Regions from separate parts of the Homo sapiens genome. Here regions 2, 3 and 4 are each linked to region 1. The links come from fine-mapping of genetic effects on gene expression. A gene starts in region 1. Each other region holds a variant in brackets. All regions are shown on one strand. Distances are from middle to middle.

The links. PIP is the estimated chance that this variant, and not a neighbour inherited with it, causes the effect.
Region 2: its variant is the best candidate, but not a certain one, in a credible set for the expression of CEP72 in whole blood (INTERVAL, PIP 0.70).
Region 3: its variant is the best candidate, but not a certain one, in a credible set for the expression of CEP72 in naive CD8 T cells (Schmiedel 2018, PIP 0.90).
Region 4: its variant is the best candidate, but not a certain one, in a credible set for the expression of CEP72 in iPS cells (HipSci, PIP 0.52).

Annotation. Positions count from the first base shown.
Region 1 is chr5:607,179-614,469 of GRCh38, reverse strand. It overlaps CEP72 (centrosomal protein 72), which reads right to left and starts at 2,130. Exons shown (of 12, transcript NM_018140.4): 1 at 2,027-2,130. The coding sequence starts at 2,108. It overlaps CEP72-DT (CEP72 divergent transcript), which reads left to right and starts at 2,260. Exons shown (of 3, transcript NR_103444.1): 1 at 2,260-2,318; 2 at 2,717-3,023. It overlaps LOC105374608 (a long non-coding RNA gene), which reads right to left. Exons shown (of 8, transcript XR_007058672.1): 8 at 6,860-7,291. RefSeq lists enhancers at 1,347-2,276, 2,277-3,207.
Region 2 is chr5:566,106-573,396 of GRCh38, reverse strand. LOC105374607 (a long non-coding RNA gene) reads left to right here. Exons shown (of 3, transcript XR_925671.1): 2 at 1,060-1,569; 3 at 1,656-2,353. Among named protein-coding and RNA genes, the nearest start is that of MIR4456, 34 kb to the right of the region's middle. RefSeq lists enhancers at 1,986-2,573, 2,574-3,163. The variant G/A (reference allele first, on the strand shown) is at 3,457.
Region 3 is chr5:648,435-655,725 of GRCh38, reverse strand. CEP72 (centrosomal protein 72) reads right to left here. Exons shown (of 12, transcript NM_018140.4): 12 at 2,173-2,738. The coding sequence ends at 2,573. Among named protein-coding and RNA genes, the nearest start is that of CEP72, 40 kb to the right of the region's middle. The variant G/A (reference allele first, on the strand shown) is at 3,807.
Region 4 is chr5:638,175-645,465 of GRCh38, reverse strand. It overlaps CEP72 (centrosomal protein 72), which reads right to left. Exons shown (of 12, transcript NM_018140.4): 8 at 6,242-6,377; 9 at 4,862-5,058; 10 at 1,041-1,167. Among named protein-coding and RNA genes, the nearest start is that of CEP72, 29 kb to the right of the region's middle. RefSeq lists a cis regulatory region at 97 and enhancers at 945-1,114, 1,736-1,785, 1,806-1,865, 1,408-1,908, 1,909-2,409 and 2 more. The variant T/C (reference allele first, on the strand shown) is at 3,162.

The DNA.
Region 1 (7,291 bases):
CTCAAAAAAAAAAAAAAAAAAAAAATTCACAGGTCAAACAGGAAGTATCGAGGGAAATTCTTAAAATACGCTGAACTGGATGAAAATTAAAATACAACATAACAAAATTTGTGGATACAGCTAAAGCAGTGCTTACAGGGAAACTTGTGGCACTGTTTATAATAGAAAATAGGAAAGTCTCAAATCAATAATCTACAGTTTTGCCTCAAGGATTTAGAAAAGTATAAAATAAATGCAAAGCAAGCAGAAAGAAGGAAATAAAAAAAAGCAGAAATCAATGAAATTTGAAACTAGAAAAACACTGGAGAAAAATCAAACCCAAAGTCGGTTCTTTGAAACTATCAATAACATTCACAAGCCTCTAGCAAGACTAAAAAAGAAAGAATACACAGATTATCAACATCAGGAACAGAAAAGGGATATCCCTGTAAACCTTGTAGCACTAATCAGGGAAGAAGGGAGGACTCGGCATGTCCCGAGGTCAGCTGCCCTCTCACCTGCTTCCTCAGAGCCCTGTGGTGCCTACTGCCTCAGGATCACTTGGATTTTGTCACGAGGTTACAGTTCCCCTTAACCACTCTACAGATAATAACCTGGACATTATAAACCGTTAAGTTTTCCATTTGAGATATTCTTTCAGGACCTGGGGACTGATGCCAGCTGGTCTAAAGGGCCCCGCAAGCGGATTCACCAAAGAATGCAGTTTCCACACCCTGATAATTCCATGGCCCTTACCTCCACCAACTGACAACACCAATCTTCCAGCTCCTCACAGTCCTGTTCCTCTAAAACCCCCAGCTCAGGCTGGGTGTAGGTGGCTCATGCCTGTAATCCCAGCACTTTGGGAGGCCAAGGCAGGTGGATCACCTGAGATCAGGAGTTCAAGACCAGCCTGGCCAACATGGTGAAACCCCGTCTCTACTAAAAATATAAAAAATTAGCCGGGCATGGTGGCGCGTGCTTGTAATCCCAGCTACTCAGGAGGCTGAGTGAATCACTTGAACCTGGGAGGTGGAGGTTGCAGTGAGCTGAGATTGTGCCACTGCACTCCAACCTGGACGACAGAGTGAGACTCCGTCTAAAAAAAAAAAACCGCTCAGATCTCCTTGGGGAGATGGATTGAGGCCTCCTTCCACCTCCCTGCTGGGCCCCTGCCAGCCTTAAACTCTTTCTCTGCTGCAAACCCCACTGTCTCAGTGTATTGGCCTGTGGCCCCCACAGCACCTGACTGAACCTGTTGGTCCAGTAACACCTGCAGACCACACACAGACATTAACAGGCTAACAACAGAACACCAGAAACAACTCAACACACACACTCCACAAGTTAGCTCAAATAAGCCAATGCCACAAAACCCCACACAGCCAAGACTCGCGGTGAACTAATATGAACGGTTCTCTAACAACCAGAGATACAGAATTTGTCATTTAAAAGCTTCAAAAACAGAAATTGACATGTCCATATGGTTTCACTGGAAAATTCCAGGAAACATTCAAACAATGAGCACACACTCTACAGAACCTCTTCTAAATATAAGAGAAGGCAACACTTCTCAGCAGTTTATGAGCTCGGCTTCACCTTGACGCCAAAACCAGACAAAAATAAGCCAAAAAGAAGGAAACCGGCCACCAACATCCTCAAGAAGGCCGAGCGCAACAATCACCACAGAGTGGGCCCAGGAGAACCAGGGAGGTGATCCCCAGCGGGAGGGCGGGCTGCGCTCCTGGACAGCAAGGCCGGCTCCCTCTTCTCAGCGGATGTAACCCCCAGTCACGGAACCAGTGACCCGATAGACAGGCAGGGGCCGGGACGCCGGGACCCGAACGCGGGCAGGGGCCGCACCTGGGCACGGGGGGTGGGTCGCTCACCTGGACACGCGCGCCCCGCTCGCCCGCGACCGTTCCGGACGCCCGCGGCGCCTGCGTAGACGGGTCCCGCCTGCCCACGGTCCGCCGCCGCCCCGGGAAGCTCGGCACCCACCCCCCCGCCACCTCACGCTTGCACCCCCGCCCGCCCTCCGGCGCACCCAGGTCGCGGTGAGGCCCTAAGCCGCTCTTCGCCCGAACCGCCTCCTCGCTCAGCACCAGCCGAGGGCCAGCCCGCGCCATGTTTCAAACGGAGCCCTCGGACGGCGCCTGCGCGGCGGGCGGGGCGAGGCTACGAGAGGGGCGGGACCTGCGTCGGCAGAACCGAGAGCCTGGCGGGACGGGGCGGGGCCTGCGCGGCGGGGCGAGGGGCGTGGCTGGGGGAGGGGGCGGGACTGCGTGGGCGGAACCAAGAGCCTGGCGGGGGGTTCTCCTGAATGGCGGTTCTCCCAGGTACTGGCCACGCGACCCCAGCCCCCGCCCCAGATAGCTCCCTGTCAAGGCTTCCCTGGGCGCGGCCGCCTTCTAGGCCCCGGCCCTTGACACACGCGGTGTCCTCCCGGGGAAACCCCGAGTAGGCGCGGTGGAATCGCGGCTGGTGGTGGGCATGGGGACCCTGCCCCATCCACACTCCGCTCCCACCCTGAACCCAGCGCCCCCGGGGACCCCCGACTCACCTAGACTCCCCACCCAACCCGACCCCCCCGCGGGGACCCCTCCAGACACCCCAGCACCCGCCCGGAGCCTTGTCTGCTGCACCTCCCGTCCAGCCCCGGGCCTCCCAGAGGTGGGCGGGAGCTGAGCTTCTCCCCAGCCAGTCACTCCCCACGGCCGGTCCTTCTCCACCCCAGAACCTCCAGAGATGTCACAGGCCCAGCACTGTGGCTCGTGGCTGACCGCGCCCTGGAGGGTCTCGCTGTGTTTATCCTTGTGAGGTCCTTCTACAGAGCTTTCAAGGAAGACAGAGTTCAGCCTGTTTATTGGGAAGACTTTAATCCTGCTCAAGACATCTACTGTGTCACCGTACCACTGTGGCCCAGCGCCTGGTGGAGTGAATCCAGACCCCCAGGGGTGTCCCCTCCCCGCCTTTCTCCTGGTGTCTAGGGGCACCCAGAAACCCTCACCCCAGATTAGACCAGCTCGTTGGCAACATCCCTGGTATGTCACAGCCTGGGGGGTGATAGACAAGGCAGGGTAGTGGTGGGGGGTACGTATGGTGGTAGTAGACGAGGGTATACACAGACAGAGGGTGTACATGGGGAATGTGTGCAGGGGCTGTGTGCAGGGAGTGTGTGTGGATGGTGTAGGGGAGTGTGTAGGGGAGTGTGTAGGGGGTGTGTGCAGAGGTTGTACACGGGGTGTGCAGGAGGTGTACTCAGAATGTGTTCAGGGAGTGTGTGCAGAAGGTGTACATGGGGTGTATGCAGGAGGAGTGTGCAGAGGGTGTACATGTAGGGGGTGTGTGCAGACAGTATACAGAAGGGGTGTGTGCAGAGGATGCACACAGGGTCTCTGCAGGGAGTATGTGCAGTGCTGTACATAAGGAGTATGCAGGGGGTATATACAGGGTGTATGTGCAAGGGGTGTGTGCAACAGTGTGTGCAGGAGGTGTGTGCAGGGTCTATGTGTGGGGGTGTGTGCAACAGTGTGTGCAGGAGGTGTGTGCAGGAGGTGTGTGCAGGAGCTATGTGTGGGGGTGTGTGCAACAGTATGTGCAGAGGTGTGTGTAGGGGCTATGTGTGGGGGTGTGTGCAACAGTGTGTGCAGGAGGTGTGTGCAGGAGGTGTGTGCAACAGTGTGCAGGGGGTGTACACAAGGTGTGTGCAGGAGGTGTGTGTAGATGTGTGTGCAGGAGGTATACACAGGGTTTGTGCAGAGGATGTGTGTGGGAGGTGTGTGCAGGGGATCTGTGCAGGGAGTGTACACAGGCTGTGTGCAGAGGCTATGTGCAGGGGGTGTGTGCAACAGTGTGCAGGGAGTGTACACAAGGTGTGTGCAGGAGGTGTGTGCAGAGGTGTGTGCAGGAGGTATACATGGTGTGTGAAGGTATGTGTAGAGGTGTGTGCAGGGGGTATACACAGGGTTTGTGCAGAGGATGTGTGAGGGAGTTGTGTGCAGGGGATCTGTGCAGGGAGTGTACACAGGCTGTGTGCAGGGGGTATGTGCAACAGTGTGCAGGGGGGGTGTGTGCAGAGGTGTGTGCAGGGGGTGTACACAGAGGGTGGTGGCAGGCGGTGGATGCAAGGCTGCATCTGTTCAGCCCAAGACGTTCCATTGGTCCAGTGGTGTTAGAGCACATTTGGTCAGGTTGCCTTCATGGGATATTTGACAAGCTGCAAACCCGAGGGCATGCTGGTGCCCGAGGGCGCCTCCGTGCTGACCTCAGCATGTGCAGCAAGAGCCAGGGCACAGGGGCGGCCTGGCCCATTTCAGGCAGGTGCTCTGTGGGAGGGTGGCTGTCTCCACTGACAACCCAGGGAGGTCAGCAAGGAGGAGCCCTGAGGTGGACTCGAAAGCTGTGGGAGCTGATGGCCCTCCTGGTCTCTGCCACAGCCCTTAGGCTGTGGGACACACAGCGTCACATTTGATCACTGTTCATGGGGCCTGCCGAACACTCAGCATTCCTGAGTGCAGATCGTCACGTAACTTTCCAAAAATTGCAAACCCAGATATGGCTCCATGACCCCTCCTGCAAGACTGTGAAGGAGTTCAGGGCACAGCTGAGCCCTCACACCCCCAGCCCCATCACTGCCCCTGATATGCACTGAGTGGAATTCTGTCCCGCCAGGAGACAAACAGTGGACAGCATCCTGGCTCTTCAGAAGCACATGACGATGGCAAACTGAAGGCCTCATGGGCCCTCACCCAACAGCAGTGGCTTTTCAGGGCATAACACAGGCCCCAAACACTGAGCCTCTTCCTCCTGGGCAGGTACCCAGCTGGCCAGACAGGGCAGGGTAGGGGCGAGTGGGACCTCAGTGGGCAGCCGGTCCAGGACAGAACCACACGGGGATGTGATGGAAGTACCAATGGGAACTTTGAAAACAATGCCTCTGCTCACCAAAGTATCCCAGCTTCACTGTAGAAAATATAGACACTACAGAAGGGCACCGAGATTCGATATGCCGCCCTGCTGAGATAACCCACACTAACATGCCCACATGTATCCTGCAGGTGTTTTTCAAGCCTGTGCGTATTGACAGTCATGAGGCTATGCTAAGCATTGCCGGATGCATCTGCCACTAAGTAGTCTTTAACGTTGTTTATTAAACACTTTTAATGGTCACGTTAGATCATAAACCAAACCCAACTTTATTATCCTGTCTTCTGCTGCTGAAAGTTGTGTCTGTCTCCACTTCCTCACGGTGCTCACTCTGGTTGGCCAAATCATGAAGATCCATGGAGGCGCGGGAGCCTTCCGGCCTGGAATGGGGCAGCAAAAGCACAGAGCCGCAGAGAAGCCGGGAAAGCAAAGGCAGGGGCTGCTGGGCTGGGCCCCATCAGCCCCATGGCAGCGGCACCCGCACAGGCCTGGGGTCCCCAGCAGCAGGGATGCTGTCTGTGGGCCCAGGGCTCCTCCACAGCTTTGGGGGCTTCCTGCCAGAGGAGGGGGGTGGTTCTCCTGGGAGGGGCCCCAAGACAGGAGTCCCCAGACCTGGGCACGCCTCACCTCGGGTAGGGCCCCAACGCTTCAGCGGGTCTCACTGGCATCCCTAAACCTAGACCACAGGAGAGTGTGCTGTGCCATCATCACGATGACCCCTCCCCATCCCAGCGCACGCTCCCACGACGCACCGTGCTCACAGTGACCCCTCCCCATCCCAGCGCACGCTCCCACAATGTGCCGGGATCACAGTGACCCCATGGGCTACCTGCCGCTCCCAAGGACTAATGGAGGCCTCTGTCCCCAGGTTCTATCCCGGGTTCCTCACAGGGCACCAGCCCTCAGGCCCAGTTAAATTCCGGAGCGGCTCTTTAAGCCCACAGGCCCAGGCCGCTATGGTAGGACCCAGGTGGGAGAGGCTCTCCGTGTGCTGTCTCCCTGACAGGTGCCCCATCCATAGCTTTCTAGAACATCCCAGGGAGGCTCCCAGGCCCCGAGCCTCAATCCTCAAGCCTGTGGGTCCCAGACTGCAGGCTCAGTGAGCCCTACAGAGACCAGGCCAGCGGAAGGAAACAGGGAGACCCACATGGTCAGAGAAGAGGGCTGGAGGTTCAGCCTGAGGGGCCTCTGGGCTTTCTCTAAACAGAGCGGGGGTGGGAGGAGGCTGTGATGTACAGTGAGGGGACTTGAGAGGGAAATGGGGGCCTCCACCCACCCCAGGGACGAGCGCTCACCCCAGGCCCACCTGGCTCGCAGCATCCAAGCCAGGGCTACGCAGAGCAGCTGCTCCCAAACCCAGCTCCCTCTGGGTGCCTGAGCCAGGCTCAGAGATGCATCCTGCATCGTTCTTTCTCCATCCTGTGTCAACAAGACAACACAGGCAACCAGCGTGGCCATGCTGGAAATCCACAGCCTAGCGGAGCGGCCTCGCCTGCATTCATGTGGCCAGTGGAATTCGCGGCACACACATTCGCACTGTCACGCTCAGTTCACGTGTGCACACGCTCACAGCCACAGCACACTCACAGTTCACACACCTCACACGCATACATACACAGGTGTACGTGCACATGCACACTCACGTACACACCCACCCACACACAGTCTCACACCCAGGTTCACACCCACACATGGACCTCAATCCACCGGTACCTGCCACACACCCACACGCGGACCTCCATCCCACTCCAAGGCCTTTCCCCACATCCCCGGGCGGCAGGAGCCCAGCGGTCAGTGCAGAGGCATGGACGAGGGCCAGGGAGGCAGGTGGCACGAGCCACCTGCTCTCCACATCCTTCTCGAGAGGAAAGGAGGTGCCGGCCCACCCTGCCCACAGCTCCTCGGCGAAGCCGCGTCTGGTCCAGGGCCAGCCGCCCCTTTGCTGGTTTCAGTTCCTCCTTTATCCATTCATAAACGTTGAACAAAAGCGCTCTTTTCCCTCACGGTATCTCTAGCAGTTAAGATCAACACCAATATTTGAGAACTGTCAATACTGCATTTTACCCACTTCCCAAATGTGAAACCGGAAGGCACACGTAGCCCTTGCTGGGCTGTTTCCAGTGAACACAGTTGAGGGTGGGCTTGGGGGTTCTCCGCATCGTAATGTCTTAGGAGGGGGTGGGGCCACACCTTCCCACCTTGTCCGAGTAACAGGCCACGTGTGCGGTTTAGTTCACACCGTGGAGGAGGGGAGTGTGAGGGCAGCGGGTGGGCCGCTGTGTCCTGGTCTCTGTCCTGCTGTGTGGCCAGGGAGGGAGTGCGGCTGTCCGATTTAGGTTGAAACACCGTCCATCGGCATCTCTGGGGGATGTTGCCACTGCCC
Region 2 (7,291 bases), 41 kb after region 1:
GAAAGTCTTTCTGTCCAGGTATTCTATACCCTTAGATTTGGTCACTTATTTCTGGCCCTCTCAGTCGCATTTTAAAGTTTCCTTCATGTAGATTTGAAGTCTTTAGTCATCCTAGCGATTCCTCACTAGCGTTACGGTGTCAGGGAAGACTAGCCGTGCCGGAGAGGATGGCTCACGCCCGTTCACCCTTCTACCATCTCTGCTGTTGGCATCGTACAAACGTCACATGACAACCCAGCACTGTCACTGAAGTTCCTTTAGCCCAGGGGTGTCCAATCTTTTGGCTTCCCTTGGCCACATTGGAAGAAGAAGAATTGTCTTGGGCCACACATAAAACACACTAACACGATAGCTGATGAGCTAAAAGAAAAAAAAAATCACAAAAAAAATCTCATTATGTTTTAAGGAAAGTTTACAAATGTGTCTTGGGCCGCATTCAAAGCCATCCTGGGCCACATGTGGCCCACAGGTCAAGAGGAGGACAAGCTCGCTTCAGCAAGTCAGTAATTGCCAGTGCTGAATTTGCCGCATAAGGACTCGGCCCTTCCCTGTTCCCAGCCCAAGGTCGTTCTCCTTCAGCTGAACATTTTCCTTTATGATTTCCACACTCGAATTCTGCTGGCAACAAATGCTTTTTATCGTCTGACAATATCTGTATTTACCCTTCATGTTTGAAGGACGTTTTTGTTCTGTATAAAATTCTGGGTTTGTGGATTTGGGTTTTGTTTATTGGTGGTGTCTGGTTTCGTCAGCTTGCAGAAGCCGCCTTTTCGTTTTCAGACCCCATTGTCTCCGGGCCAGTGATCAGCCACACCCTTCCCCTGGGGGCTCCTCACTTCTGGTGGCTTAATTCAATCGGGTGTCTATGTATCCTCAGCTTTCTGGCGGGTTTTTTTTTTTATTGTGAATTTATAGCTTATGTGGCTTGTTTAGGTTGTTGGTGAAAATAGGCTCTTGAGACTTTCTATATTGTAGCTGGAAGCAGAAGTTGTGTGTATTTTTTAATATAAACTTTTAATTTATTTAAGTAATGTATTATTTGAATTTTTTCTTTTACAGAAAGGTGTCAAGAGTAGCACGGGAATATCTCTCTGACCATCTAGGGGTCTGTTGCTGACTCGGTGCCTCCTTGTCCTGCGTACTCCCAGGTCAGGACATCGGCTTGACTGGTGGCCACCTGCTGACCTCAGAGCCCTCGGAGCGAATCCAGCTGTCCAATTGAAACCAAGCATGGTCCTCTGCGGCTTGGCCTCTTTTTCTCCCGAGATGGTTGCGGGGCACTTATTGGGTGAAGACCCTCATTCATTCTGGGGTGTGTCAGGAGTTTCTTCGAGACAGGACCAAGCTATGAGCCTGTGGCAGGAGCATCCGAGGCACAGCTCAGCCTCTCCCGTGCTGCACACCCCTGTGTGCAGGTGCCCTTGCCCGCAGCCGCGGCTCCAGGTCCGCGTGGAGTCAGCTGCTGCTGTCAAGCATTTTCACAGTACAGTTACTGGTCTACTCCAGCACAGTCACGAGGCACCTTGAGAGGCTGCAAAAGACCCCTAAAGTCTTCCGCATCTTTATCATGTAAGGATGGGCTTGTGGGTTCCAGCTTTATTCCAGGGTCTATGATTTGGGACTGTCATTGACACCCATATGTTTGTCTTTTGCAGTCCTCAAGGGATGGGTTCCAGGACCCCCGAGTTTAACCCACCTGCAGGAGCTCAAGTTCCTGATGTAAAATGATGTCGGATTTGCAAGTAACCTGCACACATCCTCCCGGTACTTTAAATCATCCCTGGATTATTCATTGTACCGAATACAATGGAAATGCTATGTAAATAGTTGTTACACTGTGTTGTTATTTTTATTTGTATTTTTTCTATATTGTTATTTTTTATTCTTTTCCAAGTATCTTTGATCCTCGGTTGAATCTGTGGTGCGGAACCTGAAGACGTGGAGGCAGGCCGTATTTATTTCTATACACTCCTATTCGTTTTGCAAATCCTAAATTCACACAGATGCCTCCAAACCGAATCCAAGTCAGAGTTTGTGACAGTTTTCTCTTTTCAAAATCTGAAACTCTGACAGTAAGACCAGCTCCCAAGGCCTCTGACACATTTGCATCGTGGATCAATCCCCTTAGGTGACCATCCCCTTAGGTGACCATCCCCTGCTGGAGATGCCCTTCCCTTCTGGCCTGGGCTCGGCTCCCCTGCTGTGTGGACAGCCCTTGCCGGCAAGGGCTCTGATTCCCCGCAAGGCCACACCAGGCCCCGGCCTCCTGCCCCAGGCTGGGGCTGACTATGCAGGACACCCCACCCCCACCAGCCTTGGGGTCTCCGATGCTAAGGTAGGGGCTTTGCACCTGCAGTGGGCAAGGCCACCTGGGCACAGGTGTGCGGGAGGAAGAGCCTCTCAGGAGCCAGTGGAGGTGAGGCTCAGGAGCCAGAGGAGACGTGGGAACAGCAGGAGGGTCCGGGGCAAAGGACCCAGTGCTGCCTTGAAGCCAGAGGGGGCTTTGTGGAGCACACGCCTGGGTGCAGACCCCACGGGGGCCGCACTGCTAATCTGCAGGTGAGCACACGCCTGGGTGCAGAGCACACGCCTGGGTGCAGACCCCACGGGGGCCGCACTGCTAATCTGCAGGTGAGCACACGCCTGGGTGCAGACCCCACGGGGGCCGCACTGCTGATCTGCAGATGAGCACACACCCGGGAGCAGACCCCACGGGGGCCGCACTGCTGATCTGCAGGTGAGCACATGCCCGGGAGCAGACCCCACGGGGGCCACACTGCTGATCTGCAGGTGAGCACACGCCTGGGTGCGGACCCCACGGGGGCCGCACTGCTGATCTGCAGGTGACCTTATTGGGTGTAATCCCATGGCTCCCCCATCCACACAGAATTCCAAACAAGGACGAAACACCTGATAAGAAACCAATTAAACCCTGTTTCTTCATCAGCTTTTATTTTACATGATAGGTAGAACCTAATCTCATAGAGGGGATGGGCGGGCCGCTTCTGTTCCCAGACCAGGAAAATGGGCAAGGGCTTTGAACTCCCGCTGGGGAGGTCCAGCTCCCAGGAAGGCCCTCTAGCCACACGGAATGCTTATCTGCTGACGGCCTGGAGGCCACAGGCTGCCCAGGACAAGGCTGGGCTGTGGTCAGCAGAGGGAAGGTGCTGGGGTGAGGCAGGAAGAACTGGCACAGCTCTAGGGCTCACCGGGGACCAACGAGGTGGCTCCCTGCAGATACCAGGTCCACGAAGTCGAGAAGAGCCCGGCGGATACACAGCGCCTTGTCGGCGGCACGTGCCCCCAGCATGCAGCCCCAGGGGTCTGGACTCTGTGCCTTCACGTTGCTGGCCTTGCTGGTGGGCACAGCCCATCCCTGCACACTCGTTGGCCGGGGCCCAGGGCCAGAGCCCCCCGTTGCCCGGAACAGCAGCGGGTTTCCAGTGGTCAGCCTGC[G/A]GTGGCTACCCGTGCACACCCCCTTCTTTGTGGCCATGTGGATCCTGGTGGCCCTGTCCTCTCTGCTGGGTAAGTGCCTGTGTCGGCTCAGGGTTTCCATGCCTGTTCGGCCTCTAGAAGGGGCGGCTCGGTCAGCAGGGCTTTTCTGGTTTGGTTTCACGGTTCCTTGTGTGTTTTAAATCTTCTTCGAGTAAGCGCTGGTCCTCTTGCGGCAAATGGATCACCGAGGCCATCGCTGGGCCTCCCTCCCCGATGCCCCTGAGAGACCAGACACCCTCAGCTCTCATTCCACACGGCCGGCCAGCGGGGTCTGGAGGAGGGAGGCTATGCCTCAAAACCTGTTGAGCCTTTGAAGGGACTTTGTGGTGAAATGGCCACCTAAGCCCACGCCGTCCAGGCTGCACTGCGCAGGCCCGAGGGAGCCCGTCGGCTGCCATCAGAGAGGGCCCCGGGGCCTGGCCCCACCTGGGTGTGCACAGATGGCCACCAGAGGTTGTGATCCCATGTGGGGGGTGGGTCAGCCGTTGCCTTGCAGCTCTTGGTACATTTGTTTCCATTTTTATTTTGAGTTTGCGGAGATTAATGTCAACCACTCACCATTCTCTAGTCCTAAGAAAGCCGCCCAGTAACTGCAGAGAAAATCATTCATCTCTTGGGGCAAATCAGATTTGGGGCTCAGTATCAACCTTAACAAAGAACTGACCACCCAGCAAGGGCTGCGACTACGATGAAGATAAACAAAGAGGGCATGACAGTTAGAGCTGATTCTGAGGACCTCCTCTTTACAAAAAGAATTCGCCCAGCTGGGATGTCCCTGTGGCACCGGTGTCTGCACTCAGGACTGGTCAGCCTGGGGCCAGGGTGGGAGGAGGAAGGGGTCTGGGGGCTGAGGACCTGGCTCCAGCCCCACCTGGACACTGGGCACCACGTGGCCCTTTCTAAATGTTAGGACCGCTGACCCTCAGGCAGCGGTGGGTCGACTGGGAATGCGGGTCAGTGGGAGGGGCGGGTATGGAAATGGAGGTGGGTGCTTTGCCATTGCAAAGACACCCACAGGTGAGCCTGTGCCATGCCTGAGAGGCCCCAACAGACCAAGGGTCTGTTTGCAAAAGGGCTGCTGACATGATGGAGAGGAGAAACGGGAGAGCAGCAGGCGCAGGAGGCACCAGGAGGGCCAGGGGCGGTAGGGCCAGCTCACGGTGCTGAGGGGGCAGAAGGCCCCCCCGGGGTGAGGGGGGTGCGGGAGCTGCCGCGATGTGTCTGGGCTGTGAATGTGGGGCAAGGGGCCGGGCAGGTGGAGGACAGGACCCCTGGAGGGGCTCAGAGATCTGAGAAGCCAAGTTCAAGGGGGGCTCTGTGCACATTTTGAAGTTGCCAGTAATCGAGGCACGGGTCGATGTGGAGAGCTGCTTTGAGCCAGGAACTGAAACCCTAGAGAGAGGAGGGGATGCCCTGTCACGGGGATGCGGGGGCAGTGTCGCGATGACCCAGGGTTTAGGAAAGAGGAAGGGAGGGTGGCCTGGAAGTGGTGAAAGAGCTTCGGGATAGGGAAAGGGGGAAAGGCTGTGGCTTCCAGGAGGGCTGCAGCCAGAGACAACAGCTTCAGGGCTGGGTGCAGATAGGAGGCCCCAGGGCTCTGCTGTGAGTGCAGGATGGTGGGGCTTGCCCGAGTACAGCTCTCTCGACCCCGAAAGACAGGCGGAAGACCCAGGGGGAAAAGGCCCCAGGAACCCCTGAACCATTGCTACGGGCGTGGCTGTTCAGACAACAGCAACCGCGGGAGGGGAGCGTAGGGCTCTGCCTGCAGCCACGCTCTCTCCGGGATGTACTCTCCAGGGGTCCAGCAGGGCTGCAGAGGCCTCCTGGCTGCTGGCGGAAGATAGCTGCAGCAACCTCGCTCCCAGGCCCCTCAGAGAGGCAGCCCCTCAGCCACAGGCGAGTGTTGCAGGGGTGCAGGCCCACACGGGCGGCAGCTGGAGGGCAGGTGGGCTGGGCAGGCACTGGTGCTGTCTCCTGGCTTCCCTGAGCCATGGAGCCATGTCCTGCCTCCTGCTAGCGGCCGTGGGGGCCATGGGTTCCTGTTTATGGCCTGTTGTGTGTGCGAGGGTCACTAGCAGCTGGGGTCGCTGGACGTGTGAGCCTTGGACCTGAGTAGATCCTGCCCAGCTCAAGGGGCATCACCGATTCCCGTCCTCAGTGTGGGAGCCTCCACACCACGCTGCACACTGCTCTTGGTGCCAGCAGGTCTGAATTGTGGGTATTCTATGGTGTCTCGTGGGTTTTACGTTTTAGTTTGCATCTTCCCATCACTAATGAACCCATTCTTGTCTTTACGGATGCTCCTGTGACTTGCCAGCTTGAGTCTTCCGTCCACTGCTCTCTCTCTCTCTTGTTCTGGGCATTCTCTGCATGGCCTGGGTGTTCATTCTCATCTTTACAGATGTTCCTGGGACTTGCCTGCTTGAGTCTTCTGTCCACTGCTCTCTCTCTCTCTCTCTTGTTCTGGGCATTCTCTGCATGGCCTGGGTGTTCATTCTTAGATTTTAAAATGTTTTCCAATATGATGAGTCTGAAGTGGTGGCTCATTAAGTGAGTTTGGCAGTTTATTATGGGGTTTTCCGTTAGACACCAAAACCAGAGAGAATACGATTGTGACCCCGAAGACCCTTCACTTCCCATTGGGATCTCCAGGCCCGTTCTATTTTCCCCATTGTCTCTAGTCTCTCTCCCTCCCTGTTTTGTGCCACTGGCTGTGACGATGATGGGGACGCCTGTCTCATGTCCCCATGGACTGAGGCGCTGCTTTATCGCGTGACGTCACCCACTCTCCCGCCCCTCGGCAGGCTCTTCTCTGTGGTTTCACCCGGGGCTGTTTCCTTCAGCCTAAGAATGCCCTGGTTATGTCTTGTGGTGCAGATCTGCCTTGGTTTCTCCAAAAATGCCTTCACTTTTCCTTCGTGTCTGGGGTGCTTCTGTGAGCACAGGACTGCGGGCTGGCTTTACTTCTTCTTCCTGTCTGGGGTGCTTCTGTGAGCACAGACTCGGGGCTGGCAGCTTTCTCTCCTTTCACCACTGCTGAGATGCCATTCAATCTTCTTTTGGCTCCCATGGTTTCACTGAAAGTCAGCTGTGAAACCTTTGTTGTTTCTTTGAAGATAAGTTCCAAAAATTATTTATAAATGTAATACAATTCCAATCAGAATCCCAATAGGATTTTTAAAAATAGAAATGAACAGGCTGTCCTGAATTTTACAAGGAGGTATAAACGATCAATAATGGCCAGGATGAGTGTGGTGAAGACCACAGCAGATGCCAGGATTTATTATCAACCATTTATTAAGACAGCATTACATTGGCTCAGGAATGGGCAAACAACCTTATATCCTTCTTCAAACAAAAAATATGGGTTGCTTGTCTTTTTCATATTGATTTACAGAGTTTTGTTTTTCTGGATACAATTTTTTGTAAGTTCTATGACTGGCAAATGCCTTCTAGTCAAGATCTTTTTTTCTCTCATTTTTACAGTATGCTTTCTTAAAGAGAAGTGTTGAAAACTGGAAACTATTTCACTGTTAGACCTATCCTTTCAGTTTTTAACTTTTATTGATGGTATTTTTCAGCGATTCCTCCTCCCCTGGAGACTACGTGGGTGATATTTAGTTATTGTCTTAGCAAACTTGTATGCTTTTAGTCAGCGAATTATAAGCTATTGGGTAATCTTTAAAGTATGTGAAATAAAGCCTCATCCTGGGAGGGGTCGCCTTGTTGCCTAAGGGCTCCTGGCCCAGCTCTGCTAGAGTAAGAGCTCAGTGTCTTGTTATCAGGGACAGAGAGG
Region 3 (7,291 bases), 41 kb before region 1:
GCCGCAGACACATGAGAAGGTGCTGAACAAGGAGAAGCCAATGAAACCAGAAAGAGGTCTACCCCACACGTTCCACCACCCCGCGCCCTCCGCCACCCCGCGCCCTCCACCACCCCACTCCCTCCACTACCCCACACCCACCGGAGTGAAGGTGCTAACACTTCAGGCAATGGGTGCTGAAAACATGGACCGGCAGACGTGGTCATACACAACTAGCAGTCGGGCCTGCGGGTACCACCACTTTGGAACAGTTGGGAATTTCTAGTAAACCTGTTAAAAACATGGTTAAGCAGTTAATGGAAACGTGAACATAATGGGATATAAAACTAATGAAAAAAATCAAATGGAGTTTTTTTGTTTTTTTTTTGAGACGGAGTCTTGCTCTGTCGTCTAGGCTGGAGTGCAGTGCTGCAATCTTGGCTCACTGCAACCTCCGCCTCCCAGGTTCAAACGATTCTCCTGCCTCAGCCCCCCAAGAAGCTGGGACTACAGGTGCCCACCACCATGCCCAGCTAATTTTCATTTTTAGCAGAGATGGAGTTTCGCCATGTTGGCCAGGCTGGTCTCAAACTCCTGGCCTCAAGTGATCCTCCTGCCTCAGCCTCCCAAAGTGCTGGGATTACGGTGTGAGCCACCCCGCCTAGCCTCAAATGGAATTTTAGAACAAAAATATACCTAATTTCTGATATAAAAAATTCACTATACAAGCTTAACATCAAATTAGGCAAGTGGAAGAAAAGATTAGTAAGCCTCGCAACAGGACAATAAAACCACCTAAAGGAAAGGATGAGAGAACAAGGATGAAAAAGCATCACGTTTAGTGACCTGAGAGACAGTATCACAGTCTAACAGAAAGCTAACTAGAGTCCCAGATGGGGACAGGGAGGAAGAAGTGAGAGACGGGGTCAGACAAGAAATATGAGTAGTGGCTGCAACTTTGCCAAATCTGGTGAAAAATATGAACTCACAGGTCCAAGAAGCTCAATGAAACCCAAACGAGGTAAGCATCTATAAGCTTAAAGTGGATTAATATTAACATCTTCTAATACTCTTACATACATAAATTACGTGATGACAAATTAACCCCATCCCAACCCTACAGAAAATAAATTTGGTATGACACATTTTCCTGTTAGGACCACAACTGGACAGAGAGGTGACACAAGAGGGCAGCCTGAAGCCTAGCAAGTCCTCTTCGGGGAAGAGACAGCAGAGTCCCACCTCTGATTTCCCCAGGGATACAATCCACACGCACACACACACACACACAGAAGCACACACACACACAGCTAGCAGACACACACAGCTAGCACACAAGCACACACATAGCAAGTGCACATACACAACGCGTGCACACACAGCACACACACAGGGTGCGTGCGCGCACACACAGCGCACACACAAGCGTACACACAGCTAGCACACAGCAACTGCACACACACACAGCAAGCGCACAAGCACACACACACAGCAAGCATGCACACACAGCTAGCACACACACAGCAAGCGCACACACAGCTAGCATGCACACACAGCTAGTACACAGAGCAAGTGCACGCGCACAGAGCACACACAGCAAGCGCACACAGCTAGCACACACAGCACACACACACAGCTAGCACACACACAGCTAGCACACACACACTAGGCGCACACACAGCACACACACACAGCTAGCACACACACACAGCAAGCGCACACTAGCGCACACACAGCACACACACACAGCAAGGGCACACACACACACAGCAAGGGCACACACACACACAGAGCTAGCACAGAGCATTTTCTTCTTAGGCCTGCTCATTCTTCCCAAATCAGTTGAACGTCATTTAAAAAATGACCTTGTCTTACCAATCACAGCAAGTATGACATAAGATATGAAGTTTCCAAACTAAAAATCTAGTTTTGTGTCCTATTATGACATAATTTTCAGAACTACACTGCAAACAAGAGAGCGAGCCAGGGCTTGGGTAGATGTTTCCGCTGTGATATGTTAATATCATAAGACAATATTTTTAAGGTTTTTTCCCCCACATCTATAAGTGTCACTTGTGTTAAGTCTTTGAACTTAATTATTCCCACTCACCTATCATGGTGCACAGCTTGTTCTATAAAAAACTCAATGACAAACTCAGTTATAATTTGTATACAGCCACTGAAAAAGTTAACTTTTCAGAACAATGTATTTGTTTATTAAATAAAGATTGCTTGTTACACAGAAAATTATTTTCTTTAATTATCATACATAGCTCTCTTTCACATCAGGCAGTAGAACACTGCATTTACTTCATCTCAGGATACTGGATACAAGATTAATAGTCAGTTTGTCTCAAAATATGTCAATGTGTTCTGTCTGAAAACATGCAGAGGGCTTGGAGTAATCATATCATTTTACGAGGTGCTTTAGAAAACCAAGCTACAGGTCCTGAATACATTCCAAAAATCCTAAATAATTACCAACAGAAGAGAGAACTCTTGCCAGCCAGTACACTCAATAAAGAAGTACAAAGGTGCAGACAATGTAACTTTACCAGGAAGCTTAAGGGGTGGCCCAGCTTCTCGGCAGGAGTCAGCAGGCCTGGCAGCCTCCATGGCTGGCGCTGCTGTGTGGAAACAGGGCCATGGTCTTCTTGAGCTCCTGGTAGCTCCAGTGCATCTGCTCCACCTCGGCTCTGTGCTGCGCCCGCACCTGGCTCAGCTCCTGCAGCAGGTGTTCATTGGTGCTGACCAGGGAGCTGCAGAACAACAGGGAAGCGGCTGCTTGGCACTTCCGTCCTCTCCAGCGGTGTGGCCCTCACCTGCTGGGCCTGCCCACCTCCCTGCATGGGCACGAAGGTGCCCTGGCCCTGCACACAGACCTATCTCTGTGGCCCCATCACCTTCTGTGTCCCACTGGCTACCGCCCACCTGCCTCCTCCTTCCCAACCACTGTCCTGACCCCTGGGAGCAGCCTTGGAGGTGCGGCTCAGCACCTATGGAATGAATGAATGAGCTGAACAGGCTAATGAGTGACTGAATGGCGCCTTGGCTATTCCAGCTACGCATGGTTTTATGAGAAGATGATAAACTTCATGGCTAGCAAAACAATGTTCTAATTCTAGAAAATATACGGGGACTGAAATAGTTCTAATTCCCAGTCAAATATAATAATTTTGACATCATAATAGTGCAATAGAAGAGTCCTAGTCTTTAATGCTGTTGACCATTTTTATTTTAGAAGTAAAGTGCTATTACATTTTACCCACTTTGTCACCTCCAAATTGCCCTAATCACCCAGTCAGCGATGACCTGAGGACACTCAGGGCATTACAAGTATTAGACAAGGCAGGGCCCACTGACCTCGGTCACATTAGCCACAGAGATGGGCACCCCACTGACAGGGCCACTGTGCAGGCCCAGGCCCTGTTCACTTGGACAGCAAAGGAGCCGCAGGCCAGGACTGGATGAAGCCAGCATGAATCCTGGGGGCAGAAGCCCAATGCCACCATGTTTGGGAGCTGTGCACCCTGCCTTGTCCACATCCAGGCCACAGTGCTCAAGGAGAATGACCCCCAACTGTACCTTGACCTGCCACAGACAGGCCCACCAGGTTCCAGGGAGTCACATGGCCCTGCCCACGACTGGGCACTGCACCCGCGGCCGCCACAGTCCCCTTCCTTCTGCTCCGCTGCATCTCCTCTTGGCCCAGTCTCATCTTTCAGGACCCTTCCCCTCTGTAACTTACACCTGTGATGGGCCCCATGGGGGTCTGTGGCCTTTATCCTGTAAGGGGCAGAGCCTGGCTACGCCTATGACCAGACTGT[G/A]GTCGAACCCAGGTAAGTGTGGCAGCCTCAGCCTGAGGAGTGGGGGAGGGAGCGGGAATGGGAGGTCGGGGGAAAGGAAGAGGGAATGAAAGGGGGAGGGGAGGGGGAGGAACTGACCACAGACCAGCCTTCCCTGCTGAGGCCACAGCAACAGGGGTTCACACAGCAGCACCCACAAAACTGCCCAGAGCGACCTGTCCTTGCCTCCTCCAGCAGCTCGCCTCTTCCTTTCTGCACCCAGCCTCCAACCACGTCCCGGCACACAATTCTTAAAAGACAAACTAAGATTCTGCCTTGAAGATCCCCTCACACCCAGCCCCCTTCTCACCATCCCCCTATAGCCAGGGAGTAAAGGTGAAATCTCCGTGTTTCCAACTGAACACGCACTGCAGTGAAGGGGGAAGCACAGCTGCCGGACTACCGCCCAGGGGAACCAGGTTGCCCCGCCGTGCCCGACCATCTCTCATGCACCTCTCTCCCCTGGTCACACTGCACACAGGTCATATCTCACAGTCCACAACTCTCAGTCCACACCTCACATTCACAACTCACAGTCCATGCCTCAGTCACACCTCACAGTCACACCTCACAGTCCACGCCTCACAGTCACACCTCACAGTCACACCTCACAGTCACACCTCACAGTCCACGCCTCACAGTCACACCTCACAGTCCACGCCTCAGTCACACCTCACAGTCCACGCCTCACAGTCACACCTCACAGTCCACGCCTCACAGTAACACCTCACAGTCACACCTCACAGTCCACGCCTCAGTCACACCTCACAGTCCACGCCTCACAGTCACACCTCACAGTCCACGCCTCACAGTCCACGCCTCACAGTCACACCTCACAGTCCACACCTCACAGTCACACCTCACAGTCCACGCCTCACAGTCACACCTCACAGTCCACGCCTCACAGTCACACCTCACAGTCCACGCCTCACAGTCCACGCCTCACAGTCCACGCCTCACAGTCACACCTCACAGTCACACCTCACAGTCCACACCTCACAGTCCACGCCTCACAGTCCACGCCTCACAGTCCACGCCTCACAGTCCACGCCTCACAGTCCACGCCTCACAGTCACACCTCACAGTCACACCTCACAGTCCACGCCTCACAGTCACACCTCACAGTCACACCTCACAGTCCACGCCTCACAGTCACCCCTCACAGTCCACGCCTCACAGTCCACGCCTCACAGTCCACGCCTCACAGTCACACCTCACAGTCACACCTCACAGTCCACGCCTCACAGTCACACCTCACAGTCCACGCCTCACAGTCACACCTCAGTCCACGCCTCACAGTCACACCTCACACCCACAGTCACACCTCACAGTCACACCTCACAGTCCACGCCTCACAGTCACACCTCACAGTCCACGCCTCACAGTCACACCTCACAGTCACACCTCACAGTCCACACCTCACAGTCACACCTCACAGTCCACGCCTCACAGTCACACCTCAGTCCACGCCTCACAGTCACACCTCACACCCACAGTCACACCTCACAGTCACACCTCACAGTCCACGCCTCACAGTCACACCTCACAGTCCACGCCTCACAGTCACACCTCACAGTCCACGCCTCACAGTCACACCTCACAGTCACACCTCACAGTCACACCTCACAGTCCACGCCTCACAGTCACACCTCACAGTCCACGCCTCACAGTCCACGCCTCACAGTCACACCTCACAGTCCACGCCTCACAGTCACACCTCAGTCACACCTCAGTCACACCTCACAGTCCACGCCTCACAGTCACACCTCACAGTCCACGCCTCACAGTCACACCTCACAGTCCACACCTCACAGTCACGCCTCACAGTCACACCTCACAGTCACACCTCACAGTCCACGCCTCACAGTCACACCTCACAGTCACACCTCACAGTCCACGCCTCACAGTCCACGCCTCACAGTCACACCTCACAGTCCACGCCTCACAGTCACGCCTCACAGTCACGCCTCACAGTCCACACCTCACAGTCACACCTCAGTCACACCTCACAGTCCCACCTCACAGTCCACACCTCAGTCACGCCTCACAGTCACGCCTCACAGTCACGCCTCACAGTCCACACCTCACAGTCACACCTCACAGTCACACCTCAGTCACACCTCACAGTCCACGCCTCACAGTCACACCTCACAGTCCACGCCTCACAGTCCACGCCTCACGGTCACCCCTCACAGTCCACGCCTCACAGTCCACGCCTCACAGTCCACGCCTCACAGGCACACCTCACAGTCACACCTCACAGTCACACCTCACAGTCCACGCCTCACAGTCCACGCCTCACAGTCACGCCTCAGTCACGCCTCACAGTCCACGCCTCACAGTCACACCTCACAGTCACACCTCACAGTCCACACCTCACAGTCACACCTCACAGTCACACCTCACAGTCCACACCTCACAGTCACACCTCACAGTCACACCTCACAGTCCACACCTCACAGTCACCCCTCACAGTCCACGCCTCACAGTCCACGCCTCACAGGCACACCTCACAGTCACACCTCACAGTCACACCTCACAGTCCACGCCTCACAGTCCACGCCTCACAGTCACGCCTCACAGTCACGCCTCAGTCACGCCTCACAGTCCATGCCTCACAGTCACACCTCACAGTCACACCTCACAGTCCACACCTCACAGTCACACCTCACAGTCACACCTCACAGTCCACACCTCACAGTCACACCTCACAGTCACACCTCACAGTCCACACCTCACAGTCACGCCTCACAGTCACGCCTCACAGTCACGCCTCACATTCACACCTCACAGTCCACACCTCACAGTCACACCTCACAGTCACACCTCACAGTCCACACCTCACAGTCACACCTCACAGTCACACCTCACACTCAGGGTTGATACCTCACAGCCCACACCCCATGGTCACATACCTCACAGTCCCATCTCACAGTCCATGCCTCGTGGTCACACCTCACAGTCACACCTCACAGTCACACCTCACAGTCACCCCTCACAGTCCACGCCTCACAGTCACACCTCACAGTCACACCTCACAGTCACACCTCACAGTCCACACCTCACAGTCACACCTCACAGTCACACCTCACAGTCCACGCCTCACAGTCACACCTCACAGTCACACCTCACAGTCCACACCTCACAGTCCACACCTCACAGTCATGCCTCACAGTCACGCCTCACAGTCACGCCTCACATTCACGCCTCACAGTCACGCCTCACAGTCCACACCTCACAGTCACACCTCACAGTCACACCTCACAGTCCACGCCTCACAGTCCACGCCTCACAGTCCACGCCTCACAGTCACACCTCACAGTCACACCTCACAGTCCACACCTCACAGTCACACCTCACAGTCACACCTCACAGTCACACCTCACAGTCCACACCTCACAGTCACACCTCACAGTCATACCTCACAGTCACACCTCACAGTCACACCTCACACTCAGGGTTGATAC
Region 4 (7,291 bases), 31 kb before region 1:
TTTTCTCATCACCTTTACGACGAAATGATGTTGAATGGACACGGTTATTCAAGGACCCGTTGTAAATATAACAGTATCTTAAAGAAACAGAAGATAGAAAAGCAAAATTTATAAATAAAAAAGAAGACTCTAAGGAACTCTTACCGCTCGATAAAACAACCCAATAAAAACCAACGGGCGAAAGATCCAAGGAGACGCTGCCCCAAAGGAGACAGAGCGGCCACAGGCCTCATCCACAGCTGCCTCCCTGCCGCAAAGGCCACCGCTGGTTGGGACAGACATCGTGAGACCCACACGCCCTGAAACGGTTACTACCTGGCCTTTGAGGAAAAGTCCATGAGCCCCTGAGAGGCTAGACCAGGAAGAGATGCTCGACTTGTCAATCTCAGGGAAGTATGAGTTAAAACTTCCAAGAGACTCCACGCCACACCGAGAAGGTTACCGTGGACAGCAGACTCCATCAGCATTTCCTTATTTAAAATCCAGGTATCTGAACTTGAAATACTGAATACACTTTTGTAAAAATAGCAAAACAGAACAAAAAAAGTGAAGAGAGGGAAATGAGAAAGATCTGCATCTTGACCACAGCAGGCCTGCTCGGGAGAGACACGGGTTCACCAGAAATGCAACCTGAATCTGTAACGCTGAGACGCTGGGCAACAGGCTCATTCACCAAATTCGATGGCAGCATAACCATGGGAGGACGCCAGACAGGAGCAGCAAACCCCACAGTGACCAGGCCCCTCCAGCAGCTGCAGCCCTGACACCCTGTGCTGAGGGGAGGACGGTCGGGCAGGGTGAGGACAGGGGTGGCCTTGCCTCCTACATCCATGCCAGGACTGCCCCAGACACACGTGTGTGCCATAAACTCCGGCCGAGGCAGCCTCCACCCCAGCCAGTGAGGCAGGGGCTCGGCTCCCCACTTACCAACTGCGTCTGCTGCTGCTCACTTCCCTCAGTGAAGAATTTAAAACAAAGTCTACCTAGGCACATTTGAACACCTAAAGTTTACAAAGTGACCAAATACACGATCAACTTACCAGCGATCTGCAAATTTAACGTGGCTGCAGTGTCTGCACTCTTCACTTCCTTTTTCATACTCAACAAAAGCGATTTTAACCTACTGTTCTCTTCCAAAGATTTATCTAAATGTTGTCTCAAATCATCCTGCGGACACAGAAAATACACTTAAGTGCACAAGTCAAATTCAGTAAAATGCGTATAGAAAGTAAAACTGAAACCTGAGAATCCCCAGAGGGTTCCTTCTGCATACTTGGGAGTCACGATGTGAAAGGCAGTAATTCAGTTTCACGGTACATCTCCCTGCTCCCAGCCCGCCCTGCCCAGCCCTGCAGCACCCTCAGGGGAGGGGGGAAGTGAGGAGAGGGATGGAAAGGAGCGCCCCAGTCCTGTGAGAGCCCCACTCCTGAGTCTCCCTGAGGCATGTGCTCCAGCAGGACCTGCAGGCCTGATGCTGGGCAGGGCAGCTGGTGGCGGTTGGGGGAACCCTGTCTCTTCCAGGACGCCCTCACGGACACTGCGAGCCCCAGGCCTTGGTGCCAGTGTGAGGCACCGGTGGCCCTGCAGGAACCCCCTTCTGTTCTGGCTCCTTTCATATCCTCAAAGTATGGAGAAGACCTGGAGCACAGGACGAGCTGTCATCGAGGAGGGGAAAGGGCCACGCCTGCAGCTACACGGCAGCCTCTGCCCCTCCCTGGCCCCAGGGTGTCTGGTGAGGTGTGAGCCATCCAAGCCGCCAGCACCTGCGGCCAGGGTCCCCAGGGATCCCGTCTCACCTGGCTGCTGCTCTCTCAGGCACCAGCAGGCACATCCTGGGGCCGGGGGTGCTGAGCAGGCCCCAGCTCACTGCCACCAGGGGAGGGAGCGCCTGAGTCTGTGCAGCAGAAGCCTCGTGCTGGGGGTATCGCCGCTTCATCCTTCTCCGCTCAGTGAGCCCACCCGCCGACAGCCCCCTCAGCATGCATGCACCCGCCAGGCCCCCGACGCCCATGGTGAAAGCTGATCGCTGGGTCTGAGACCATTCCCCTCAGGCTTATCTTGGCCCGTTCTTCATTTCGCGGACTTCTCCCCAAGGTGTCTGCTGCAGTGGCGCCAACCAGCATGACCTGCCCTCCGCGCGGGGCTTTGGGTCGTCCAGAAAGCTCCTGGCAGTGCCACGTCTCATGGTTTTGCCTCCCAAGGATGCGGTGAGCTCTTAAGGCAGGGCTGTGAGCTCCCAGCTCTTTTTCATTTGTTTCTTTGAGGCAAAGTCTCCCTCTGTCGCACAAACTAGAGGGCAGTGGAGCAATCACAGCTCACTGCAGCCCCCAACTCCTGAGCCTCCTGCCTCTACCTCCCAAAATAGCTGGGATGACAGGAGTGTGCCACCACACCTAATTTTTTATTTTTTGGAGTCTAGGCCACGACAGGTGCAGGGAACAGAGGACCGACTGCACCCAAGCTGGGCGCAGCCCATCTGCCTCAGAGGCCGTGCCAGGCACAGCAGCTGGAAGTGGGGCCACCTTGCCTCAGGACACCCGACTGCAGCTTCCAAAGGAAGCAAGGTCTAGGTTCATGTGACCGAGGGATGAGCGTCCTCACGTGGCAGAGTAAACTTGGGTGCTTCTGGAGTGACAGATGTGGGCCTCCCTGGAAAGCAGTGCCCACCAGCCTGCACGGCTGCTCCCTCCGCGGGGTTCCTGACGGTGCTGACTGCTCCTTACCCGCGGGGCTCGGGCTGCCAGATTCTTCTGGATCACTCACCCTGACAGGGAACCAGGGCTGCTCTGTCCAGAGGCCCAGGGCTGCCTGCAAACTGCAGGGGTTAGGCAAACTGCAGAGGGCAAAAAAGCAGGCGTCCACGGCAGCCACAGCTGCATGTGACTCTCACCCCTGGCAGCACTGGTGCTCGGCACACCTTTGGGCTCCGCCTGTCAGCTCTGTCTCGTCCCAGGCTCAGAAGGGCAAGGGGTGTGCCTGACTGTGTCCCACAGAAAAGACATCATCAGTGACGGCGCCCAGCTCACTTTCCAGACAGCCGGTCACGTGTGTTTCAGTATAAAGGCTTCCAGACGGGGGGCCACACGTGTTTAAATATAGAGGCTTCCAGAGAAGGGGCCATGTGTGCTTAAATCCAGAGGCTTCCACCAGATGAGGGGCCA[T/C]GTGTGTTTAAATACAGAGGCTTCCAGAGGAGGGGCCACGTTGGTTTAAAAGCAGAGGCTTCTGGACGGGGGACCACGTGTGCTTAAATGCAGAGGCTTCTAGATGGGGGACCACGTGTGTTTAAATGCAGAGGCTTCTAGACGGGGGACCACGTGTGTTCAAATGCAGAGGCTTCTGGACGGGGGACCACGTGTGTTTAAATGCACAGGCTTCTGGACGGGGGACCACGTGTGCTTAAATGCAGAGGCTTCTAGACGGGGGACCACGTGTGTTTAAATGCACAGGCTTCTAGACGGGGGACCACGTGTGCTTAAATGCACAGGCTTCTAGACGGGGGACCACGTGTGTTCAAATGCAGAGGCTTCTGGACGGGGGACCACGTGTGTTTAAATGCACAGGCTTCTGGACGGGGGACCACGTGTGTTTAAATGCACAGGCTTCTGGACGGGGGACCACGTGTGCTTAAATGCAGAGGCTTCTGGACCGGGGACCACGTGTGCTTAAATGCACAGGCTTCTAGACGGGGGACCACGTGTGCTTAAATGCACAGGCTTCTGGATGGGGGATGGGGGGCCATGTGTGTTTAAATGCAGAGACTTCTGGACGGGGGATGGGGACCCACGTGTGTTTAAATACAGAGGCTTCCAGATGGAGGAGGCCCACATGTGTTTAAATACAGAGGCTTCCAGATGAAGGCCACGTGCAGAGGCTTCCAGGCGGGGTGGGGGGGCCACGTGCGTTTAAACAGAGGCTGCCTGTGTTGTTTTGCTGTGTTTTTCTTCTCTAAAGAGGAAGCGTTGTGTGGGATCTCTGAGATGTTGGTTCCCATGAAACGGACAGTATGTACTTGTCAGACAAGTTCAGAGGCAGTTTTCGAAGCCGTCCCGGGCCGACTTCACTCGCAATTTAAAGATGCTGACAAGGCCCCTCTGGATGTGCACATCCTCACGTGGCTCTGCCCTCACACCAGGACTCCCGGAGGGCGGCTTCTGCCTGGGTGTGGCTCTCTGACCACCAGCTCCCTGTGCTAAGGATGCCAGCAGCCCGTGGGGAGGCCCTTGCAGCGTGGAGGGAGCCTGGGAGGATCCTGTCCCGTGAGGCCTCAGATGAGACGGTGGCCCCAGCCCACGGCTGAGACAGAGCCCCCATGAGGCCTCAGATGAGACGGCGGCCCCGGCCCACGGCTGAGACGGAAGGAGGGAGCCTGGCTGAGCTGAGCCTGAGGCCCAATACACAGAAATCCAAGGTGATAAATGCAGGTTTTCAGCTGCTGGTTTTGGGGTAACTTGCCCTGTAGCCCCAGCTCACCATGGGACACTGGCCGTCATCTCCTTCATAAAAGGAGAGTGGCCTCGGTTTTCCCCAGTTCGAGGCCCTGAGAGATGGGTCAGCAAGACAAAGTCACGTCCAGGCCTGGCTCCTGCAGCACCCGGCACTGCCCAGTGGTGGAGGGTCCCTTGGGCCCGGGGAGAGAAGGTGGCCAGCGCCACTGCTGTCTCCAAAGTGCTCCAGGCCTGTTGTGAGACAGGGCAGGCCGCGTTCCGGGGGTGGCCGGGTCCCGGGCAGGGAGTGGAGACATGGGGCTGCAGAGATGGCAGTTGGGACAGTGTGGCATCAAGGAGCTGCCCTCGTTCCTGGAAGTCAGAGCCATGTTTCCCCCAGTCACATGGACACAGACACAGCGCCAGGGCGGGCTCACCAGCTCCTTGTGTGTGTGGTGCAGCTCCGCCGTCACCTCGCTCATCTCCCGGGCGTGCTGCTGCTGCTGCTCAGCAAGGCGGCTTTGCAGGGACTTACTCTCCAGAGCCAGGGAGCCGACATCTTCACCCACCATCGCAGAGCTGTCCTGAGCTGCTGTGAATTCTTCAACAGATGACAAGATGTGTCTTGCCTGAGCTAGGAGTGAAAACCAAATATTACATTAGCACTTAGGCTTAAAGGATGAAATGTAAACAAAATCGGCTCAGTATGTTTTGAATCACACAGACGATGCCTCAAAAAGACGACAGGTAGGGAGAGGGGAAAGGGGTGTTGGCGCCACAAAACCACCTCAGGCTCTGTGCGTCCACACACGGGCAGGGTGGGAACTGAAGAAAGAGAAGAGGTGACCTCCAAGAAAAGGGGCAACCAGGGGCCGCCACGTCTCAAGGTTTCAGTGGCGCCGCCACAACTCGCTGCGCCTTCCACAAGCACCGACTGCCCTGTGTGGAAACCACCATGCAGACGACAGCTGGCAACTCCACACTGGGACAGTGGCCTGGGCCTGGGACAGTCCCCCCGCCACCGACGATGGCAAGCTCAGGAGGCTCCCACAGGACACCAGCCTAGGGAGAGGGGAGGTTTATGGGGCTGGGGTCCAGGTGGGCTGCGACTGCAGGGCGTCCTCATTCTAGGAGCTGAGGGGCTATAACACTGCAAGGCGCAGTCAGACAGCTCAGAGCCGTGCCCAGGGTCTGCGGGGAGAAGCACACTGGCTAGGCTCCTGAGGGACACACACAGCCACACCCCAGGATGCAGGACAAAGAGAAGGTGCCCCTGGGGACGCGGCATCTCCTGGTCTCCCAGTGTGATCCTGGATGAGGGAGGCCCCAGTGTGCTCATGTACGGGTTGCCTGGTAGAATCCAACAGACCCAAGTCCTCTCTGGGGAGGGACCACCCTCCTGGGTCCCACACCAACCAAAAGCTCTGCAATCCAGGCCCAGCACAGGCTACACGTCTGGGTCGGGGGAGAAGATGCTGAGCAGCTTCCAAACTCCAAATCCCCATGTGATCACAGCCATCAGAACCAAGCCCCTTTGGACAGCATTTTGAGCAAAATGAGGTGACAGGCCCCCCAACACCCCAGAGCACAGCGGGGGACCCACAGGCCCAGGCCCATGTGGTGTCTCCCGAGAGCCCTGGACACTGTGAGATGCAAAGACTGCCAGGGAGGGCCCAGGCGCGGGACCACCACACGCTCGTGGGAGGGGACATAGGAGACCTGGGGCTGAGATGACTCCTAGGTCACCACACGCAGAGGACCCCGGAACCCACACAGACGCTGCCTACAGGGCAAGAGCAGTGGCCGCCCTGACTCACCAAGGAATGCCTCGTTGCTGTGCAGGGACCTGCAGCCGCCCCAGCTCCTGTCCACCAGGTCCAAGAGCGTCTCCAGGAGCGCCGCCTGCAGGGCCGTCTTCTTCCCGGGTAGAGCCGAGTGTGACCCGGGAGACGGCTGTGATGGAAACAACAGCATGAGGCCAGCGAGTCAGTAACTGAGGTCCTGAATGCCAGCAGGTGCCCAAGCGCACCCTGGGATGCCCTCGCACCACGAAGGGGAGGACAGGTGCCCTGAGGCCCCAGCCCTGAGCCAGGTGGAGGGCGGCTCAGCAGTGCCTGCCCAGTGAGGCTTAGCCAGGTGCACCGGTCCTGGATGAGTGAGGTCTCGATGACAGGACAGGACGGGGCCCACACATTCCCAACTCAAGCAGGCCCCAGACTCCTCCCCTCAACCCAGACAGGGAAGCGGAAGACACATCCAGGCCGCAGTCAGAGCCTGTGTTCAAAAGGAGCTGCCCAGGAAGCAGCCTGCACCCACAGTCAGGCTGGTAGAGGGTGCCAGGCGCTGTCCCCAGCAATGGCCCGGAGTCAAACAATAACCCTGAAACAGACCGCCCACCTCCCCCATCTCTGCCTCCTTCCAGCTCAGGACCTGCCGGGGACGTCAAACACGCCCCACCCAGCTCTGGGACCCCCCCCCACCCCATGCTGCTACGGAGCTGCCTCTAGCTCCGGCCATGCCTCCCTTCCTGTCCCACAGTTCCGCACCTTCAAGCTCCTCTGCCTGCATGGGAGTCTGAAGCCCTCGTTGTGGCAAGTACCAAGTGAACAGCCCCTGCCTGTTCCCTTCTGGGTGGTCTGCACTCATGTCTACAGCAGGTGTGTCTCAACGCCTCTGACTGGGCCTGCGCCAGTTGTCCCCCTGACCTCTAGGTCACCCTGAGGGTGGAGTGACTCGGTCTCTCATCACAGCGACCTCCAGGATCCTCCCCTCACGAAAGGGTCATCAATGGCTCAGCCGGCCAAGATGCCCGATTCCAGCTTTGGAGACAAATGCCCTGTGCACCGTAAGGCAGAGTCCCCTCTCTC